Linked DNA regions of Homo sapiens: region 1 is linked to region 2. The links come from fine-mapping of genetic effects on gene expression. A gene starts in region 2. The other region holds a variant in brackets. All regions are shown on one strand. Distances are between the middles of the regions. Region 1 overlaps TRIM2 (tripartite motif containing 2). Region 2 holds the start of TRIM2 (tripartite motif containing 2).

Evidence for each region. PIP is the estimated chance that this variant, and not a neighbour inherited with it, causes the effect.
Region 1: its variant is fine-mapped to the expression of TRIM2 in spinal cord (GTEx, PIP above 0.99). The same link has a PIP of 0.9 or more in substantia nigra.

The regions. Positions count from the first base shown.
Region 1 is chr4:153,293,809-153,296,723 of GRCh38, reverse strand. It overlaps TRIM2 (tripartite motif containing 2), which reads right to left. Exons shown (of 12, transcript NM_015271.5): 5 at 2,239-2,419; 6 at 688-1,411. Among named protein-coding and RNA genes, the nearest start is that of MND1, 49 kb to the left of the region's middle. The variant C/T (reference allele first, on the strand shown) is at 1,166.
Region 2 is chr4:153,203,030-153,205,944 of GRCh38, reverse strand. It overlaps TRIM2 (tripartite motif containing 2), which reads right to left and starts at 1,502. Exons shown (of 12, transcript NM_015271.5): 1 at 1,385-1,502. The coding sequence starts at 1,414.

The DNA of each region.
Region 1 (2,915 bases), 91 kb before region 2:
GAGAGACCATAAATCAGAGGAGGGAAGGGCTATTTGCATTCCTAACTCTCTTGGCTCATCGGGTACCTTCTTGCTTCCACCCCAACCCCGCCTCAACCCCATTCTTTCTCCAAGTTTCCACCCCTCCTCCTCTCCTTGGGGCTGCTCTCCAGCTACACACAGCTGGAGGTGGTTGCAACTTGCAATGCACACATCCCCTCCCTCCTGCAATGCCGATGCAGTGACAGGGAGGCATCACATGCTCTGCCAACCGTACAGCCTCAGCTCTGGCACAAGAAGACCCTCCCAGGGAAGAGGGGCGTTGGTGGTGGGGGTTAGGGGGAGGATTGCCAATTTTTCCTTCAAGATTTTCAGATTACGGGTGCTATGATTTTTCTATTTCTCTTTTTGCTTATTTTCAGCTTGTAATTTCCTACAATGAATATGCAGCACTTGTGTCTTAAGGAAGAGGAAGAAGAGAAAGGAGGGAGTAGGGAGGAGACTAGAGGCGGAGGAGAAGGAAATACCATCTCTGGAGGAGACTGCATAAGCTCGACTAACAAAATATATCAAATTTTATAGCAGTACATCTCCTAACACCTGCAGGTAGAGTTCTGGGCTGCAGTGTTGCTATTTGCAATGACACGTGCCCAGTTACCCCTTAACCAGTGCCAGCTCAGGCGTCGGGCACAGAAGCCCTCTCCTTACCCACTCGAAAGATCAAATCGTCTTCGATGGGATTCTCTTTTCGTTTTCCAGTGCTGTACATGCTTGCGGGTCTTTTCACAGCTTTCTGCTTGACGTGGCCGCTCCCCGGGGACTTAACGCGCCTCTTCACGCCTTCTGTGGTGGGAGACACATCAGCGGATCGGATCACTTTCAGCTTAAACGGGCTGCCTCGGATGTGCTGGTCATAGAGTCTCAGAGACAGGGTAAAGTCCCCTTCCTTCTGGACAGTGTACAAAAACTCATAGGTGCCGTTCTTGTTGTCCAGGATCTCCCCGTCTGCCACGCTCCCGTCGGGGGTGCTCAGTTCGGCGGTGAGGTAGGCGTTGCCGGTTTTGCACAGCTCACCGTCTTTGTCCTTGGTGGTGATGGTGACGGACATGGGCTGCCCGATGATGGTCTGCCGCAGCCCCTCGCCCGTGGCCACTGTCTCTGAGGCAACGGCGTTGGTGGTTAAGAT[C/T]GTCCCGAGGTTGTGGATGGACTTCTTCAGCCCCTCGGTTTCCACGATGAAATCCAGCTGGTCGTTCTCCCGCGGGTGCAAGGGGAAGTCCTGGTCGGCCAGCTCGTTCAGCTTCTCGCTCATCTGCTTCTTCACCAGTAGGACCTCGGTCTCCGTGCCATGGTTGAGGGCCTGCGCTGTGAAGTTGCTGCAGCTCTTAATGCTCTCCTGCCCCTGGAGCAGAGTATCCAGCTGCGACTGGAGGACCTGCGGGAAAACCGGAGGCCTGGTGAGCTCGTCCCACAGGGCGGGGCCTAGCCCGGGGCAGTGCCCTCCACCGGCGAGAAGGAGACTCTACACCTGCCCACGCAGGTGGCTCTGAGCAAGCGGTGTTTGTCAACCCAGGGAACCCAGTGCTAACGCAAAGTCCTAAACTGCATTCCCAGTACCTTTTCGAGGTTTCCCTTCCGCCTCGCCCTCTCTTCCACACATGTATTTCTTGGCTCATGTGTTTTGGAGAGGGGAAAACAGAAAGGTCACTACCAAGAGCATAGCAAATTAATTGCTATGCCTGACATCTGAAATATTCATTATTCAGTATCTTTCCCCATGTCCCCATGTCCATCACCACCTAAAGGAACAGGAAGTAAACAAATGAAAACTCTCCACACCTGAACATCAGAGGTTTCTCATCCCTGTTTTGTGAACAGACATGCAGAGTTAAACAAAGGCTGCAGTCAGGGTTCATTTTGAAGCTGACTAACAGGTTGGTGTGGGTGAGAGAGCAATTAAGAAACTATTTCATGTTATAACTGAGGAATGAAAACAATCCAGTTTAACTCTAAATGCTAAAAGCATTACATTATATTCAACCTTGCCTCTTGTCAAATTATAAACTAGTACTTAAAGTCACAGAGTCATCGAATTTTGCTGAAAATAGGGGAAAAAATAGCTGGATATTACATTCAGTGAAAACTATAGTTTACTATACAATGATGACACTTAAGGACCCCTTGTTGCTATTAGGAAACAATAAGCTAGTGCCCTTGGATATCATGTCTCTTCCAGGACATCTGTAATGATTCTGGTCTTACTTTGTGTTTGAGGCCATAGTTGACCTCCAATTCCATAAGCAGCACACTCTTGCGCACATTTAAAGTCTTCTGGAGCTCATCAAAGGTGGAATGAATGTCATCCACGATGCTGGCCTTTTGGTTGGTTAACTGATGAATGATTTCAGAGATGAACTGAAGAGCAGAATCTATTTCTGGGAGCCTGGTGGACAGTTGTTAAAGGTCGTTATTTAACCTCAACCCAGAAATATTCCAAAATCTATCTAAACACTACATTTTGTTTAAAAAAATTCTATGCCTTTCATCATCTTTAAAAAAACAATAACCAGAGAACAGAATAAGATATGACATAATTACTGCCTTAGAGAGAAGAGATTTTGTCTCTTCAGAGACAATCAAAATTGTCAATTTCAATCTACCATCAATTGTCCAATTTTAATAATTAATTAAGTGTATAGACTTGAAGCTCTCTGAAAAGCCATTCTGGCCAGGTTAATTCTTCGTTGCAGGGGCCGTCTGGTGCATTGTATGATGTTTAACAGCAGCCTGTCCTCTACCAGATACCAATAGCTCTCCCCGCCCTGCCTCCCTCTCCCCAACCCCCTGCCAAAACACACAGTTGTGATACCAAAAATGTCTCCAGGCATTGCCGAATGGCTGAGAACCACTATTCTAGATAGCTGTATCTTTTACCCTAG
Region 2 (2,915 bases):
GGTGACTCATCCCTCTCCAGGGCTCTAGGACCGCACCAGGAGAACCTGGCCTCACTTAGAGACTGCCTGTTTTCATACAATGGGTTCAAGCATTCATGTTGCTTGGCGTCAAATTCATTTGAAAAACACCCTTTGTATTCTGACTTAATACCTCCAGGATCCGCAAACAGCATGGTGGCTTTAAACAAGGTGTACCTAGATAATAGATACAAGTTGAGGGAATTTGGAGAGGTGGGGAGACTTTCAAAGCATTAAATGTATTAAAGTCCCATGGTTCACCTCTAGCTTTATGTAAAAATTAAACCTCACCTTTTCATTTTATCAGGCTCCTGTCGATAACAAACACAAACCGCAAGTTCACTGACTCCACACCACGGGGCTCACCAGAAACTTATCTGATCAAAGCTGCCGTAGGTGATTCTTTTTTTCAGCAGGAGGAGGAGGACTTTCTAAAGCAACTCCCAGGACTCGAGATGTTGTAGCCCCCTCCCCACCTTACAGGTCGCAATGACAGCACAACCCTTTCCTTGCCCTTTGCGCACCCCGTGAGCTACGACAGGTGCCTCACTGAGCACCGAATGGGCCAGCCAAGAGATAAAGCAGGCACCAAAGACCGGTGCCTGAGTGGTTTTCCACCCTCACCCATTCACACCCCGGAAACCAGCAAGCACCCCGAGGTGTGGCTGGCTGAGCCCACATCAGGCTTCACCCCCGACTCACATGGCGTCCCCAGGCTCTGCTGACTTCTCACTTGGGTAGTCAAGGACAAACGCTCTATTCACCTGGGGCTATTTCTTCATTCCACAGTCGCACGGCAGAGGGACATAGTACCCTTTGAGCACTTTTATGGGGCAGTAAAACTTTACAGTCTCCTGTCTGCTCTAAACTGTTCCCACATTTCTGAATAGACCTATTTATAACATGCAAGACTACTACAGTTTGCCCTTTGAAAATACTAGCAGATATTAGGTCCTTTCAAATGGGGTCGACTGAGTTACATCGGCTAGCAGCTGGCTTACAGAAACCCCGGAGAGGCCCAGCTAAGCTCCTGACTGTGACTACCTATGTTAGGAAATAAAACAGCATTTGAGTCTCACAACATCACTGGAACTGGCCTTATGCTTTGCCACATTCATGTTGCTTTGGTGTCAAATCCAGCTGTGTCTCTCCCTCGATTTTTTGCTTCCTTACTCCCTTCCTGCCTGGATTAACAGAGCTCACTGTGAGCTTTGTCAGCAAATCCCAGTCTTTTCCTTCCCTCTTCTGCAGGGAAAAAATTAAAACCAGGAAAAAGTAGCAACCCAATCACAACTTGTTTCTCCCAGCCCCGGATTAACCAGCTGGCCCAGAAAAAGAATTATCCCACATTGAGAAGCGTCCTTACCTGCGTTCCATAACGGCCACTCCTGTGCATCGAAGACCAGAGCCAGCCTCCTCCAATCTGGGGACTTAGCTCCCCGCAGCCCGCAGACAACTGGGCCCATTATAGTCATCAAGCTGCCGAGTTAAAGGGTGGCCCTTACTAAAATATAAACAGCTAGTCAGCACAAGCCAAAGGGGCGGGGCTACAGTATCAGGGGACAATGAGAGCCAATGATCAGCCTCTTTGGGCTCTGTTTGCTTAAGATATTGTGTTTCATTCCGAAGTAGGGGAGACGGGAATGAGAAACACTGAAGAGTAAGGGCTGAGTTATCATCTTTACAGCCCCCAGTAGGAAAAGCGTCCAAGTTGAAAAGTTTAAATCACTGCCCACAGAAGACCAATTTCAGGAAAGTGTTTGTAGACTGCACACATAATAATATGTATTTTTAAAGCCACAGATATTTATGTTGCATTAGCTATCTGTTGTCTTCCGGGGTTAATAAATGTGGTATTCATGAGGTCAACGGGAGTTTTTCAACCAAAGAACAAAGGCCAAGAAAGTTAGTTTGATGACATGCTTATTTTATTGAATATACTATCTGATCAGGAGCACTCACCTCATCTACAGAGCAAACACTTGTTTGATTGGCACATCTTTATTTTATTTATTTATTTATTTATTTATTTATTGAGATGGAGTCTCGCTCTGTTGCCCAGGCCGGAGTGCAGTGGCACAATCTTGGCTCACTGCAACCGTAGCCTCCTGGGTTCAAGTGATTCTCCTGCCTCAGCCTCCTGAGTAGCTGGAATTACAGGAATGCACCACCACACCTGGTGAATTTTTGTATTTTTAGTAGAGACGGGGTTTCGCCATGTTGGCCAGGTGGGTCTTGAACTCCTGGCTTCAAGTGATCCGCCCGCCTTGGCCTCCCAAAGTGCTGGGATTACAGGAGTGTGCCACTGCGCCTGGTCTACTATTTTTTTTTTTTTTTTTGAGACAGAGTCTTGCTGTGTTGACCAGGCTGGAGTGCAGTAGTGTGATCTCAGCTCACTGCAAGATTGGTACATCTTTAGAACCCAGAGATATGGATTTATTGTATGCCCAAGTCAGCAAAATGGCTCACATTTGATGTGTTTATGTTCTTCTTCGTGTGTGTGTGTGTGTGTGTGTGTGTGTGTGTGTGTGTAGAGATGTGGGTCTCACTATATCACCCAAGGTGGAGTGCAGTGGCTATTCACAGGCACAATCATTGTGCACTGTAGCCTCAAACTCCTGGGCTCAGGTCATCCTCCTGCCTCAGCCTCCCTAGTAGCTGGGATTACAGGCTTGCACCTATAATCATGCCAGACCATGAGCATTTCATTTGATCAAACATATCAGAAGTTCAGTATATTTGGAAGAAGGCAGGAGAGCCGTGGCTTCTTTCTGTCTCCCAAACTTAACTAAATTCCACTTTTTTTTTTTTTTTTTTTTTTTTGAGATGGAGTCTCGCTCTGTCACCAGGCTTGAGTGCAGTGGCACAATCTTGGCTCACTGCAACCTCCACCTCCC